Linked DNA regions of Homo sapiens: region 2 is linked to region 1. Evidence: fine-mapped expression QTL. A gene starts in region 1. The other region holds a variant in brackets. All regions are shown on one strand. Distances are between the middles of the regions.

What was found.
Region 2: its variant is fine-mapped to the expression of HNRNPM in whole blood (TOPMed, PIP 0.97).

Annotation. Positions count from the first base shown.
Region 1 is chr19:8,440,632-8,448,952 of GRCh38, forward strand. HNRNPM (heterogeneous nuclear ribonucleoprotein M) reads left to right here and starts at 4,344. Exons shown (of 16, transcript NM_005968.5): 1 at 4,344-4,480. The coding sequence starts at 4,368. RefSeq lists silencers at 1,234-1,528, 4,103-4,382, 4,623-4,852.
Region 2 is chr19:8,497,979-8,506,299 of GRCh38, forward strand. PRAM1 (PML-RARA regulated adaptor molecule 1) reads right to left here and starts at 4,662. Exons shown (of 10, transcript NM_032152.5): 1 at 4,587-4,662; 2 at 398-1,802; 3 at 245-311. The coding sequence starts at 4,613. RefSeq lists enhancers at 531-1,217, 7,827-8,321 and silencers at 7,744-7,793, 7,814-7,913, 8,024-8,283. The variant A/G (reference allele first, on the strand shown) is at 3,499.

The DNA.
Region 1 (8,321 bases):
CTTGAATCCAGGAGTTCCAGGCTGCAGTGAGCTATAATTATACTTCTGTTGTCTATTCTAGGCAACAGGGCAAGACCCTGTCTCTAAAGCAAACAAACAATTTTTTAAAAATGGTGACAATATCCACGCTGACTTAGGGTGACTATAGATTAGGCATAGTTCCGAGTCTCTCCCTCCTTTGACTGTCACTTGTTAGGGAAGAAGTGGTTATTACCTACATTTTACAGGTGAGAAGACTGAGGCCCAGGGCAGGGAAGCCTTAATCTAAGGTCTCAGAGCTGTAGGAAGTGGAGCCGGGGTGACACCAGGACTCCTTTTGGAGGAAGACTCAGGAAAGATGCAGAATACGTGTTTTTTTTTTTTTTTTTTTTTTTTTTTGAAACAGAGTCTTACTCCATCACCCAGGTTGGAGAGCAGTGGCGTGATCTTGGTGATCTTGGCTTACTGCAACCTCTGCCTCCCGGGTTCAAGTGATTCTCTCTTGCCTCAGCCTCCCAAGTAGCTGGGACCACAGGCAGCTAAGTTTTGTATTTTTAGTAGAGATGAAGTCTTGTCATGTTGACCAGGCTGGTCTCGAACTCCTGACCTCAGGTGATTCACCTACCTCGGCCCCCTAAAGTGCTGGGATTACAGGCGTGAGCCACCGAGCCTGGCCCAGAATGCAGTTAATCTAATAACAACACCTACTTCTTCAGCGCTTTCTGCCTGCCGATTCTTTTATATTTAAAGGCTCTTGGCATCTGTCTGCTTTTAAAGCTCAGGGCAACCCTGAAAGGTGAGTTCTGGTGCCTTTCTTTCTTTCTCTCTCTCTCTCTCTCTCTTTCTTTTCTTTCTTTCTTTCGACGGAGTCTCGCCCTGTTGCCCAGGCTAGAGCGCAGTGGCACTATCTCTGCTCACTGCAACCTCCACCTCCCGAGTTCAAGCAATTATCCTGTCTCAGCCTCCTGAGTAGCTGGGACTACAGGCGCCAACCATCATGCCTGGCTAATTTCTGTATTTTTAGTACAGATGGGGTTTCGCCATATTGGCCAGGCTGGTATTGAACTCCTGACCTCAAATGATCCACCTGACTCGGCCTCTCAAACTGCTAGGATTACAGGCGTGAGCCACCGTGCCCAGCCTGGTGCATTGCATTTCTTATTATCCATATTTTCAGTTAAGCAAACTGAGCCTCAGAGTGGAGGAGCTGATTGCTCAAGGTCTGTTTTCCATATGAATCCCTGCCTGGTATGTAGCTCACTCACAAAGGAAGAAAAACTTTCTGCCTGGACTGGAAGGGCAAGGAGAAGCCTGTGTGGCCATGGGAGTGGAGGAAACAGCTAAGCACAAAGGCCCAGAGGCTGGAAACTGCTTAGCCTGTAGGAAGAGCAGCAGGGAGGAACCCCAGGGCTGGAGCAGTGTGATTGAGGGGCAGGTGGCTGGAGAGATGGGCAGGGCCTCCTAGGCATGGGGTGACTGACGCACCAGTGGTCTGCAAAAACGGAGCATCACACCAGTGCGCATGAGCTCTCCTGCCCCTTGGGGGGGCCTTCCTTGCTCCTGCAGCTGAACTCCCTACACAGCCTGACACCCATCTTTCCTCAGGCCAACTTTGGCCTGTGGTGCCCCAGGAGTTGATGTACAGATGCCTCAGGACATGCCATGAGGAAGAGAGAGACGAGATGGGGTGACTCATGCCTGAAATCCCAGCACTTTAGGAGGCCAAGGCAGGAGGATTGCTTGAAGGCTGGGAGTTAGAGACCAGCCTGGCCAACATAGCAAGACCCTGTCTCTACAAAAAGAGAAAGAAACAGAGAGAGAGAGAAGGAAAAGTGTTTTCTTTGCAAATCTATTCTAATACTTTCATAGAGAAGAGTTTTAGTTTGGTGTTAACCTGTCTTTAATAATCCTCTAAGGACCAGCACAGTGGCTCACGCTTATAATCCCAGCACTGTGGGAGGCCAAGGCTGTAGGATCCCTTGAGCTCAGGAGTTCGAGACCATCCTGGGAAAAACGGCAAGACCCTATCTGTACCAAAAAATAAAAATAAAAAATTAGCCAAGTGCAGCGGCGTGCACCTACAGTCCCAGCTACTTGACAGGCTAAGCAGGGGAGGATCGCTTGAGTTCAGGAGTTCAAGGTTGCAGTGAGCTATCATTTACAAAGGTAGATTGAAATATTATTGATAGGCTGGGCACGGTGACTCACACCTGTAATCCCAGCACTTTGGGAGGCTGAGGTGGGCAGATCACCTGAGGTCAGGAGTTTGAGACTAGTTTGGCCAGCATGGCAAAACCCCATCTCTACTAAAAAATACAAAACTTAGCCAGGCGTCGTGGTGTGCACCTGTAATCCCAGATACTTGGAAAGCTGATGCAGAAGAATCGCTTGAAATCAGGAGGCGGAGGTTGCAGTGAGCTGAGATGGTGCCACTGCACTCCAGCCTCTGTGACAGAGCAAGACTGTCTCCAAAAAAAGAAAAAAATATATTATTGATAATCGCTGCATTGAAGGCCAGGCGCAGTGGTTTACGCCTACAATCGCAGCACTTTGGGAGCCTGAGGCAGGCGGATCACGAGGTCAGGAGTTCGAGACCAGCCTGACCAATATGATGAAACCTTGTCTCTACTAAAAATACAAAAGTTAGCCGGGCGTGGTGGCATGCACCTGTAATCCCAGCTACTCGGGAGGCTGAGACAGGAGAATCGCTTGAACCCAGGAGGCGGAGGTTGCAGCGAGCCGAGATGGCGCCATTGCACTCCAGTCTGGGCAACAAGAGCGAAACTCCGTCTCAAAAAGATAATCGCTGCATCTTACTGCCCAAGTTGCCACAAGCACACGTAACATCTGATGGTGCCAATTCGACTGTCTGCACTTGGAAAATGGCACATTGGAGGCTGCACAGCACCATAAAACTGATGCCACGAATGCACACAAAAATAAGACCATACAGCATTATGCCTAGTACAGAATACACCCTGAATTCTGTCACAGTTCACTTTATGCAACATTGCAAGAGTCCTCTCGCTCTTTATTATTATTTTTAATTTTTTTGAGATGGGGTCTCACTCTGTGACCAGGCTGGAGTGCAGTGGCCCGATCTTGGCTCACTGCAACCTCCTCCTCCTGGGTTGAAGCGATTCTCCTGCCTCAGGCTCCCCAGTAGCTGGGATTATGGGCGCCTGCCACCACACCCGGCTAATTTTTGTATTTTTAGTAGAGACAGGGTTTCATCATGTTGGCCAGGATGGTCTGATCTCTTGACCTCGTGATCCACCCGCCTTGGCCTCTCAAAGTGGTAGGATTACAGGCGTGAGCTGCCGCGCCCAGCCATTAATTTTTTTTTTAATTTTGTTTTTAACTTTTAGGTTTGGGGGTAAATGTGAAGGTTTGTTAAATAGGTAAACACTTGTCATGGAGGTTTGTTGTACAGATTATTTCATCACCCAGGTATTAAGCCCAGTACTCAATACTTATCTTTTTGTTTTTTGAGATGGAGTCTCAGTCTATCTCCCAGGCTGCGGTGCAGTGGCGTGATCTCGGCTCACTGCAACCTCCGGCTCCTGGGTTCAAGCGATTCTCCTGCTTCAGCCTCCCGAGTAGCTGGGATTACAGGCGCCCGCCACCACGTCCAGCTAATTTTTTTATTTTTAGTAGAGACGCGGTTTCACCATGTTGGCCAGTCTGGTCTCGAACTCCTGACCTCAGGTGATCCGCCGCCTCGGCCTCCCATACCCAAAGTGCTGGGATTACAGGAGTGAGCCATCGCGCCTGGCCCCATTATTAGTGAATTTTAACAGTTTTCCGTTTCTTCTGGACGAACTGTTTGCAATTATAATGCGAATTACGGATAATACTCTGATATTATTCCATGCCGTTCCGTTGTTGCCTACAAAGTTCGCGCTGGAGAACCGCGCAATTGCGTTACAAAAAGAAAAAAATCACACAAAAAGACACAATGTTTTAAGAAAGTTTACGAATCGTGTGCCGGACCGCGGGTTGAACAAGCTTCATCTAAAACTTCCAGGAATCTCTAGACAGGATCATTGCTTCCCCTCTGCTCCAGCTCTGGTTACAGAAAGCTGAGAGTGACTAGGTCTAGGTGTTTGTGTGGGGTGGGGTGGGGAGATGCCTCCTCTATCGGACTCAGAGGACGCGCGCCGGGAACAGCCAGTCGGTGCCTAACGCGAGTGTATCTCGAGAGAGAAGCGATCAACAGCTGCCGGTCTGCGCCTGCGCGCGGCGGGGGCGTGGCCCGGGGCGAGTGGGGCCAAGGAGGCAGCCGGGAGCGGCGGGCGCAGGTGTTACTGGTTGCGTCGGGTCACGTGGGCGCGCAGGCGCAGCGCGGTGCAGCCCGTTCGCTCACACAAAGCCCAGACGCGGAGAAAATGGCGGCAGGGGTCGAAGCGGCGGCGGAGGTGGCGGCGACGGAGATCAAAATGGAGGAAGAGAGCGGCGCGCCCGGCGTGCCGAGCGGCAACGGGGCTCCGGGCCCTAAGGGGTGAGTATCCCACGGTCCTTTGCCACGGGTAAGGGTTCCTCTCCGCGGCCGACGCGGGCGGCGGCTCCGTTAGGTCTGTTGGCGGCCTAGCCCCGGCGCGGCCTCGGCCCCGGCTGTTCCCGTACCGCCTGCTCAGGGTAGCGGCGTCTAGGGCCGTGAGCGGGGAGCCGGGGGAGCCTCCAGAATCGTCCCCTACACCGGGCCTCGAGCCTCGCCACCCTCAGTCCCTCCAGGCCGGGGCCAACCCCGTAGTCGAGGCCTCAGGCCCAGCTGCTGCGCATGGGGGTTGATGGCGCGGGCCCGGACCGGAGAGCCTCCGAGGCCTACCCGACCGCTCCCCGGGAGGGTGACCTCGGGGGCCGGGTTTCAGCCCCCCGTCCCCTCTCCTCCCGGGGTCTGTTTTCTGATCCGTAACGTGGGGGGAGGAGAGAGGGTGCGCGCCCGGGAGGCCTCGCGCGCAGTCAGCCCGAGTCAACGGTAACCGAGCGAGGGAAGCGTCAGGAAGGGCCGCGAAGCCGGGTCGGGGGGCTCCCCTCCTGCCCCGCCCCTTAGTCCCCGCGCGCCGACCGCGCTCCGCGGGAAGTGCCTCCCTCGGAACCGCCCCTCGCCCCACGCTCTGGCCCTGGCTCAAGTCCCTCGCCGTTTCCCGCTCCTCCTCCCCGGGTGCGCCGCAGGTATTAGTGGAGAGATGGGATCTGCTGCTTAGCGTTCACCCTCGGAAGCAGACAGATACGAAGTCGGGGGAGGAATCCCCTTTTTCCCGTGTTTCGGGGAAGCTGTTCTGTCAGGAGGCGGGTTCATTTACTTCCAGACTTCATCAGCTTTTCGAGTCCTGCTTGGGGCTCTTTGACTCCTTGGCTTTTAAAAGTTTCTTTAAAGGAGGAAGCATCGACTTGTGCCCCGGTGAAACTCATTCATTCTGATTACAGACACTTAAGAGAGACAGAGAGGTTTTGGCTCCAAGATCAGCGGCCGGGAAGGAAGGGGAAGCCTGGGTACACATTGAATTTCCCAGACATTTATTTCATTGTGGTAAAATAGACATAACGTAGACTTTGCCATTTTAACCATTTTTTAAGCGTATAATTCAGTGGCATTGAGTATACTGACTCAGTGTGCTGTAACCGTCACTGCTTCATGTCCAGAACTTTTTCATCATCGGAAACAGAAAGTGTAGCTATTAAATACTAACTCCCTCCGTTTTCTTTCCTTTCTGTCTGTGACTTTGCCTTCCTCATATTGTAATGTGTGAAGCTTAGTTTATGGAGATTAAAAGTGAATGCGGTTGAGCACTTATATATTTAATTTTTTTCTTTGAGACAGGGTCTCCCTCTGTTACCCAAGCTGGGATGCAGTGGCACGATCACAGATCACTGCAGCCTCGAACTCCTGGGCTCAATCGATCCTTCCATCTCAGCCTCCTGAGTAGCTGGGATCACAGGCGCGGCACCACCATGCCCGGCTAATTTTTTGAAGAGAGGAGGTCTCCGGGTGTTGCCCAGGCTGGTCTGAAACTCCTGGGTTCAAGCCATCCTCCTGCCTAGGCCTTCCAAAGTGCTGAAGTTACAGGCATGAGCTACTGCGCCCTGCCTAGTTGAGCGCTTAGGTTAAGAACGTTCCCTAAGTGCTAGCTATATTGGTAGATAATAAATCCGGAGAAAATTCCAGATTCTTTCCCTCCTTAAGTAGGGAGAAATAAAATACCATGGTTACTGGCCCTTAGAAATGAGAAAAACTTCCTCTATTCCCAGCATTTTACTATTGAAAACTCTGGGAAGGAATGTGTTAATTTTGACTTTTTCAGCGTCTATCTACGGAAGCTGGTAGGATTTCTGAGGGTGGTATTTGGAGGGCTTTAAGATAAATTTATTTACCGTATGCAGGAAGGAGTGCTGGTAGAACCTTGCTAGATGATAGGGTAAATTAATAGATTACAAATTTTCCCTTTTCCCCTGTCCATTTTCAAATAGTCATTTTGTGACTGAGTCATTTTACAAATACATGTGGACTGTTGGAACCTGAAAATTGTAGAATAAAATAGCCGTTGTGAGAAAGAGGCTCAAAGTCTCAAAGTCTAGTACTAGCTTCATAGAGGATAGTTTAGGAAGCTGGCAACACTTGGATATTTTTGATAGGGCCTGTGGAAAACTTTTTTTTTTTTTTTTCATTACAAGTCTTAAGGAAATCTCTTTAGAAGCCTATACTTTTGCACTCCATGCAGAGTGGAGAGGCCATTAACATATTTGTATGTTATGTATGTTATGTAATTACCATAACATAAGGTAATTATGCTGTGATAGAAGTTAGTGGAGTTGCTTGGTAGAAAGAATGGAGGAGGTGACCTCCGCCACCTGCTGGGGGCAGGGACCTGTTCCTCCATGACAGGAAGACGTGTGGAAGTGGAGGAGAAGAAGATGGTTGGGGAGGGGCAGGGAAGAGAGTATCCAAAGAGCAGAGATTTGAGTGTATGCTTTATCGAGAACTGAAGTTGTGCTGGGTGTAGTGGCTCACACCTGTAATCCCAGCACTTTGGGAGGCTGAGGTGAGAGGACTATTTGAGCTCAGGAGTTCAAGACCAGCCTGGGCAACATGGTGAAACCCTGTCTCTACCAAAAAAAAGAAAAAACAAAACAGGCTGGGCCCGGCGGCTCACGCCTGTAATCTCAGCACTTTGGGAGGCCGAGGCGGGCAGATCACGAGGTCAGGAGATAGAGACCATCCTGGCTAACACGGTGAAACCCCGTCTCTACTAAAAATACAAAAAATTAGCCGGGCGTGGTGCCGGGCTCCTGTAGTCTCAGCCACTGGGGAGGCTGAGGCAGGAGAATGGCGTGAACCTGGGAGGCAGAGCTTGCAGTGAGCCGAGATTGGGCCACTGCACTCCAGCCTGGGCGACAGAGCGATACTCCTTCTTCAAACAAACAAACAAACAAGAACACTGAAGTTGCTATAGAGTTTTAAGGTTGGAGCACTGGCAGCCAGCTGATGGGCAGTGAATTTGGATTTTTATCTTGAAAGCCTTTGAGAGACAGGAGAAAAATAGAAACTTGGTTCTTTGGAATTCTTTCTCTACCAGGAGTGGAGTGTGCAGTAGACCACAAATGCAGTGAGCTAGCAAGCTTGATCTGGGAACCCAGGTTGGAAATCTTGTTTTGCAGTTACTTCTCTCCTGGGTGTGAGAATAGGATTTGCTTAATTTTGATGAGAAGTCTGTTCCAATTAAAGTCAGCAAAGATTCAGAGTTAGGGTATAGTCAGGGAAAAAAAAGTTCATTTTAGGGGAATGTATAGGTTTTTAAAATTTTTTTAAATGTAGTATCATATATAAAATAAATGACTTAACCTGCTCCCCTTCCTGAGTAATTTTTTTTTTTTTTTGAGATGGAGTCTCGCTCTGTTGCCCAGGCTGGAGTGCAGTGGCGCGATCTCAGCTCACTGCAAGCTCCGTGAACCGCTTCCCGGGTTCACGCCATTCTCCTGCCTCAGCCTCACGAGTAGCTGGGACTACAGGCGCCCGCCACCATGCCTGGCTAATTTTTTTAATATTTTTTTTTAGTAGAGATGGGGTTTCACTCTGTTAGCCAGGATGGTCTCGATCTCCTGACGTCGTTATCCGCCCGTCTTGGCCTCCCAAAGTGCTGGGATTATAGGCGTGAGCTACCACACCTGGCCCCTTCCTGAGTAATTTTGTGGGTGAATAAGAAACAGATGGATTGGTTATTTATAAAAATAAAAATATATATTTAGGGTAGATTCCTGAGGAGGTACTGTTAGAGTTGACTCCATTTGACAATCAAGAAAACTTTCGTTTTAAACACTTAAACCCAGGTTCAGGAACCTGA
Region 2 (8,321 bases), 57 kb after region 1:
TCAAGCGATTCTCCTGCCTCAGCCTCCCAAGTAGCTGGGATTACAGGTGCCCCCCACCACACCGGGCTAATTTTTGTATTTTTAGTAGACGGGGTTTCACCACGTTGGCCAGGCTGTTGTCGAACTCCTGACTTCAGGAGATCCGCCCACTTCAGCCTCCCGAAGTTCTGGGAGCTCCAGGCCGAGATGAGGCCTCTTTGAGCCCCACAATCCGCACCCACCTCCGCTTCCTCCCCACACTCACTGCGGGATGTCTTCAGGCTGTCGGTCCTGGAAGTGGAGCCCAGCGGCCGAGCGGGTCCTCCGTAGATCTGTGGGGTAGAGAGTAGGGCAGGGAAGCCGGCACTGCCTGGGACCTCAGCCCCCGCTCCTGCCGGTGCCGCCCGCCCTCACCCACCTATGGATGCTGCAGAGGGTCTCCGAAAGCTCTGCATATCCACGGGCCCCGGGGGCAGCGGGGGCTTGGCTGGAGGGTGTCCCAGGCTGCTGGCAGGGGGCAGAGGCCTCCGCCGGGGTGGATGGCTGGGTCTGAGGCCTGGCCTGGCCCCTCCACTGTGAACCAGGCCTCCTGACCTCCAGCGGGGTGTCCCAGCCGCTCCAAACCCAGGGCTGAGCGGGTGCCGGGAGCTGAAGCCGGCCACGGCCGCAGGCAGTGAGCTCTCGGAAGCGGAGCTGGGGAGTGGAGGCTTTCGAGGGAGATCACCGAAGAACTCAGGCTGCGGGTGTCTCTTGAGGACAGCGCTGGGCTCAGGCTGTGAGAACTTGCGGGGTGGCCCCCGGCGCTCCGGCTGCAGCAGCTTCCTGGGGAGTGAGTTGAACTCGGGCTCTGAGGAGGTCCTGGGGAGGCCGCCCAGCTCGGGCTGCGGGGGCTTCTTGGAGAGCGCTTTGAATTCGGCCGGCCGCGGCCTCTTGGGAAGCACGCTGACTTCGGGCTCTGAGGAGGTCCTGGTGAGGTCCCCAAGCTCAGGCTGCGGAGGCTTCTTGGGAAAGTCACTCAGCGGAGGCTGGGAGGCCTTTTTGGGAAAGGCGCTGGAGTCGCGCTTCGGCTCGCTGGACTGAGGCTTCCAGAGGGGAGTCTGAGCGGCCTCGCTGAACTCAGGCTGCGGCACGGACTTCTTAGGGAGGCCACCGACCTGAGGCTGCGGAGGCTTTTTGGGGTACACGTTGAACTCAGGCTGCGCAGGCTTCTTGGGAAAGGTACTCAACTCAGGCTGCGGGGACCTCGGGGTAGCCTCACCGGCCTCGGGTTGCCAGAGCTTCCTGGGGAATGCGCCGGATTTGGGTTCGGAGGGGGGTCTGGCGGGGTGACTGAGTTCGTCGGGCTGCAGGGGTTTCCGGGCCGGCGCACCAGGCTCCGGCAGCGAGGCCTTCAAAGGGGCCTCACCGACCTCAGGCTGCAGGGGCTTCCTTGGAAACGGAGTGGCCCCCAGCTGTGGGAACTTCTTGGAGAGGTCACTCAACTCCAGTTTGGACGGCTTCTTGGGGAGGTCAGTGACCTCAGGCGGCGGGGGCTTCTTGGGGAGGTCAGTGACCTCAGGCGGCGGGGGCTTCTTGGGGAGGTCAGTGACCTCAGGCGGCGGGGGCTTCTTGGGGAGGTCAGTGACCTCAGGCGGCGGGGGCTTCAAGGACACTGCACCAAACTCAGGCAGCGGGGCCTTCTTGGGGTGCTCGCTTAGCTCAGGCTGGGAGAACTTCTTCAGTTTACCAAACTCAGGCTTCGGAGGTTTTTTGGGCAGGTCGCTGGGCTCCGGCTGAGAGGCCTGGAACTTTGCTTTGATGCTCCGGAAGTCCTGATGGCTCTCCTAGGAGACGCAGAGCCAATGAGGCAGGGGCTCAAACACACAGAAGGGGCATGGAAGGATGGGCCTGGGGACCCTCAGGCACAGCCCACAACCACCACCCCTGCGCCCAGGCCCGGTCAGCCCTCAGCTCTTTCCCAGGAGCCCCCATGGATCCTAGGATCCTGGGACCGACACCCCTCCCTACTTCTCCATTTAGTGCTGATTCCACACCCAACCTCCTCTAGCAGCACTGGAGATCCCGACATCCCTCCTGCAGCCTCCAGTCCCACTGCCCTCCCCCCATGGGTGGTACCCCACCCCCCCAGCATCCTTGACCCCCTCATTCTTTCACCCCTCCCACTGCATGTCTCCAGTCTCGTTCCATTGCCCAGGCTGGAGAGCAGTGGTGCAATCATAGCTCACTGCAGCTTGCAACTCCTGGGCTCCAATGATTCCCCCGACCTCGGCCTCCCCAGTAGCTGGGATTACAGGCTTGAGCCGCCGCGCCCAGGCCCCCAGTCCCTTCTGTGCTAATTTCAAAACACATCCGGAATCCAACCACTTCTCACTGCCTTCACCACTGTCACCCCAGGAGGTAGTGGGAGGCAGTGTCTGCCCTCCCCCAACCAATTGCCTGGATTACTCTAACAAGCCCTTCCCTGGGCCTCTGCCTACCCCCTTCCCTGGTCAGTTCCCCCCATGGCAGCTGGAGGGAGAAGCCTGTTGAACCCTGAGTCTGTTTGTGTCCCTCTGCTCAAAACTCGGCAATGCTTCCTCATGTCCCCACAGTTCAAGCTAAATGCCTCATAAAAGCCTGGGCGAACCAGCCTCCCTACCCAGCCACCTTCTCCTCCCTGCACCCTGAACACTTCCCTCCGACCTCGGGGCCTCTGCCCTGTCCCTGACCCAGGACATGTCTCTGCACCACCTGGGTCTCTCCTTTTCCTCCTCCCAGCCTCTGTTCTCATATTTTCTTATTAGAGAGGCCATCCAAGGCCACCCTATTTGTTTATTTTTATTTTTTGAGATGGAGTCTTGCTCTGTCACCCAGACTGGAGTGCAATGGCGCGATCTCGGCTCACTGCAATCTCCACTTCCCAGGTTCAAATGATTCTCGTGCCTCAGCCGCCCAAGTAGCTGGGATTACAGGCACTCGCCACCACACCTGGCTAATTTTTGTATTTTAACTAGAGACAGGGTTTCACCACGTTGGCCAGGCTGGTCTCAAACTCACGACCTCAGGTGATCCACCCTCCACCCGCCTCAGCCTCCCAAAGTGCTGGGATTACAGGTGTGAGCCACCGTGCCCAACCTAGACCACCCTATTTTTCTTTCTTTCTTTTTTTTTTTTTTTTTTGAGACGGAGTCTCACTCTGTCACCCAGGTTGGAATGCAGTGGTGGAATCTCGCCATACTGCAACCTCCGCCTCCTGGGTTCAAGCGATTCTCAGCCTCCTGAGTAGCTGGGATCACAGGTGTCTGCCACGACGCCTGGCTAATTTTTTTTGTATTTTTAATGGAAACAGGGTTTTACCATGTTGGCCAGGCTGGTCTCGAACTCCTGACCTCAAGTGATCCACCCACCTCGGCCTCCCAAAGTGCATGAGCCATCACGCCTGGCCTAGACCACCCTATTTTAAATGGATCACCCCATCCCACTACTGCCCTGCATTCAGCATGCATGATTTTCTCCATCGTACCCACCCCTACGTATTAT[A/G]CTATTTTACATTGTTTTTAATGTGTCTTGATTTTTTTTTTTTTTTTTTTTTGTCTCTCTACACCACAACTTCCCTCAGTTCCTCAGCCTCTGCAAGGCAGAGACTTGGCTCATTCATTGCTGTCTTCCCAGGGCCTGGAACATGGTAGGTGCTCAGTAAATATTTGCTGAAATAAACAATATTCAGGCAGCACAAAGACAGCCATGTACTCAGCCTGACCATCAGGAAAACACAGAGATGCCTGGAGACGGCCATGCGGTCCCTCTCACACCGTCTCTGACATGCGGGCTGATGGTCAGGAATGCTCACAGTTGACAGTGCCTGAGAGGATTGGTGCAGACACCGTGGGCACAGGCGCTGTCTCCTGCATACCCAGCTGTCCCAGCTGCCCTCCTAGCTGGCCCTGCAACCACTCCTCACAGAGGTAGGCAGATTCACAAGAAGGCCAGGCCTCCTTAGTCCTACAAACGCCCCTTTCACCTGTGGTCAAGGAGATTGGGGGAGGGAAAGGGCAGAAACGTGTGGCCTTTGCTTCCTGCGTGTGCCTCACTTTCCCCATCCAGAGGACCAGAGACCAGGATTGCTCCTTGGAAAGGCAGCAATTCCCACCTGGGGCCTGAAGTGCCCCTGTCAAAGCCCCGAGTGGTTTGAAGGAAGTGCTCCCGGGCGACCACAGGGCTAGATAAGTCAGGGTTAGCAGGTCACAACTTGGGTGACTGGACGGGGGAGGGTCATGACCCACTTTGTCACCCCGCAGGAAAGCACTGCTCTCACCCCAGCAGCCCGTTCCCACATGGCTGCTCATGTTGACCTGGGGAGACGGGAGTTGTCCCCCCGGGGAGTCCCATCTGTCCCCCTCGCAGTCCCAACCTGAGCGTGAACCCCCAGGAGCCCGCGCTGTCCTGGGGTGTGCCTGGTGGCCGCCTACCTCGGGTCCTTTTTGCCGACCCTTCCCGTTTCCCAGATGTCTTTCGCAGCCACCCCCCGCCCCCCCGCCCGCCCCTCCACAGGTGGATCCTATCCTTCTGGGAACATCTGTGTCCCTTGCTTCCCAGCCAGTGAGGCACAGGCCTCTTCCAGCACTCACCATGGCTGCAGGCAGGTGATGGGCCATGGGATGAGTGGGACCCGAGCTGGGGCCGCTGCCTTCAGGAAGTGACTGTGGCTTCTGCTCCACGGTCAGCACACAGGGTGGGGGCTGCTAGAGGTGGGGCGGGGGAGGGCAGAGGAGGAAGGGAAGGAGGTGGGGAGGCTCCAGTCCGTCTCCAGATCCTGCCAGCCACTTCTTTTTTTTTGAGACTGAGTCTTGCTCTGTCGCCCAGGCTGGAGTGCCATGGTGCCATCTCGGCTCACTGCAACCTCTGCCTCCCGGGTTCAGGCAATTCTTTTGCATCAACCTCCTGAGTAGCTGGGATTACAGGCGCGCACCACCGCTCCTGGCTACTTTTCGTATCTTTAGTAGAGAAGGGGTTTCACCATGTTGGGCAGGCTGGTCTCAAACTCCTGACCTCAAGGGATCGGTCCGCCTCGGCCTACCAAAGTGCTGGGATTACAGGTGTGAGCCACTGCCCCGGCCCCTGCTGGGCACTTCTATTTCGCTTGAATTCCTGTCCTGCCTGCTACTGTCCCAAGCTTGGGGCACTGGTTGCCCGCATGTTCCTAACATGGTCACTAGTTTCTTTCTTTTTTTTTTTTTTTTTTTTTTTTTTGAGACGGGGTATCACTTTGTTGCCCAGGCTGGAGTGTAGTGGCGCAATCTCGACTCACTGCAACCTCCGCCTCCCAGGTTCAAGCGATTGTCCTGCCTCAGTCTCCTGAGTAGCTGGAATTACATGCATGTGCCACCACTGCCGGCTAATTTTTTGTATTTTTAGTAGAGACGGGGTTTCACCATGTTGGTCAGGCTGGTCTCAAACTCCCAACCTCAGATGATCTGCCCGCCTCGGCCTCCCAAAGTGCTGGGACTACAGGCGTGAGCAACCACGCCTGGCCAACTAGTTTCTTACTCTCTATAGTCCCCATCATTCCTACTACTTTGGTGTCCCCATCTCTGGACTCCAGGGAGGACTCCATGCCAGGCCCTGGTGACCTCCTGGGCTAGAGAGCCACAGGATGGGGAGATCTCAGCAGATCAGGGGTACGGACAGCTCTGGGGTTTAGGAGGCTCCTGGGGAGGCCCAGAGGCCCAGGACGTGGGGGCCCATGTGACCGGGTGAGGCCTCTGCTGTCTGCCCTGGTTGGCTCATCCGCCTTCCTCATTTCAACACTTCCATGAAATCCAATTCCCGGCTCTGAGCAGGACTCACTTGTTCTGGGGCAGATATCACAGGCCATGGATGTCCCAGGCTGCCGCCCTGGGCAGAAAGCTTAGCTGGTACAGCAGATTTGGGGGTCGGTGGGTGAGTGGTGTCAAAGGCCTTGCACCTGGGCCACGCACGGTGGCTCACGCCTGTAATCCTAACACTTTGGGAGGCTGAGGCAGGAGGATCACTTGAGCCCAGGAGTTCAAGACCAGCTTGGGCAATGTAGCAAGACTCCATCTCTACAAAAAATATAAAATTAGCCAGGTGTGATGGTGCACGCCTGTGGTCCCAGCTGCTTGGGAGGCTGGGGTGGGAGAATCACTTGAACCCTGAAGGCGGAGGTTGCAGAGTCAAGATCACGCCACTGTACTCCATGCTGGGTGACAGAGAGAGACTCCATCTCAAAAAAAAAAAAAAAAAAAGGCTTTGCAGTTCTGGAGGAGTGAGGGGGTCTGAGGACCCGAGGACACACCAGATTCCCAGAGGTTAGAGGTAGTAGAGAGAAGAGGAACCAGGAGACAGAGACAGGGGCCAAGAGGGGGTGAAGGCAGTCACTTGTGGTGCCGAGGACTGGCCAGATAAGGACAAGCCCTGACCACAGAGCTCAGCCCACAGGAGATCAGTAATCTCCGTCACGGTAGACAAAGGGAGAAAACACCTGCTAAGAGAGTAGAGAGCCCTGGTTTTCAGTTTGAGCACATGTTGGAATTGCCTGAACAGTTAAAAAAAAAAAAAAAAGAACCGGCGGTTGGGCAGTGTGGCTCACGCCTGTAATCCCAGCACTTTGGGAGGCTGAGTCGGGTGGATCACCTGAGGTTGATCACCTGAGGTTGGGAGTTCAAGACCAGCCTGGGCAACATGGAGAAACCCCATCTCTACTAAAAATACAAAAATTAGCTCGGCGTGGTGGCGCATGCCTGTAATCTTGGCTACTTGGGAGGCTGAGGCAGGAGAATTGCTTGAACCCAGGAGGCGGAGGTTGCAGTGAGACGAGATGGCTCCACTGCACTCCAGTCTGGGTGACAGAGCAAAACTCCATCTAAAAAAAAACAAAACAAAAAACAGAACCTACAAGAAACTCTGACTTAATCAGTCTGGGGTGTGGCCCGAGCAAGTATTTTTAAAACATTTTAAAATTTTTTTTTTGAGACAAAGTCTTGCTCTGTCTCCCAGGCTGCCTCCCGGCTTCAAGTAGCTGGGATTACAGGTGCCTGCCAACATGCCCGGCTAATTTTCTGGATTTTTAGCAGAGCTGGGGTGTCACCATTGGCCAGGCTGGTCTCAAACTCCTGACCTCAAGCAATCTACCCACGTGGGCCTCCCAAAGTGCTGGGATTACAGGCCTTAGTCACTGCGCCTGGCCTGCCTGTTTTCACGCCTCCTTTAAGAGCACAGACATCAGGATTCTGCCATCTCTGTTGTGCCTTTGCATCCTGTCCTGGGGCACAGTTCCCAGATGTGGGTTGCCCTCCCAAAAAGGAGTCTCGGGAGGACAGTATGGGCTCTCTGTGGGTCTCCAGAACCTTGGCAAGTGAAGGAAAGAATGAAAGAAAGAACAAGTGGCCAGGCGCGGTGGCTGACGCCTGTAATCCCAGAAGTTTGGGAGGCCAGGCGGGCGTATCACCTGAGGTCAGGAGTTCGAGAGCAGCCTGGCCAACATGATGAAACCCTGTCTCTACTAAAAATACTGTTTGTGCACACCTGTAATCCCAGGTACCTGGGAGGCTGAGGCGGGAGAATCGCTTGAACCCGGGAGGCGGAGGTTGCAGTGAGCTGAGATTGCGCCATTGCACTCCAACCTGGGTGACAAGGCGAGACACCGTCTCAAAAAAAAAAAAATTAAATTAAATAATAAAAATAAGTAAATAAATAAATCAAGCAATGCTTGGCCACAGTAAGGAGCTCAATCAAGGTAATTAAAGGATTGGATGACAGCTGATGGATTCCCAGGTGCCTGGGCTGGTCACTACCCGTGCACTCTCGCAGCTAGGAGGGTCCAGCCAGGGCGCGCGCACCAAGGCCCCACGGGGGCGCCGTGGGGGTGAAGCGCAGGTCCCGGAGCTGTAGTCATGGTGCGCCTCCCCGCCAACTACCCTTTGTGTATTTGGCGCCTCCGTAGGGGCTCCCGGCAGGGTTCCGCGCGGCGCGGCTGCAGACAGGGACAGATAGGGTTACCGGAATCCCGGAGAAGGGAGCCCGGACCAGGGGAGTGAGAGTTCGTTAGGGCGCGCCTTGGGGAATCTGCGGGGTCGGAAACGCGAACAACGGTGTGCAGGGGGAGGAGCCCGGGGAGCACGTGGGCGGCGGATCCCAGGGCCGCAGGGCGCCCTCCACCTCCCCGCTCCTGGCCCGCAATGAGGGTAACCGGACCGGCACCTGCAAGTGACAGCTGGGGCTGGACAAATGCCGGGCACGGGCCTCTGGCCGGCCTCAGAGCTGTTCAGCGCGAGCCCGCGGCTTCCAGCCAACCTGCCCGCTATCCCCACTGCTCTCCCGGCTTTCATTCCCCCGAGTCTGAG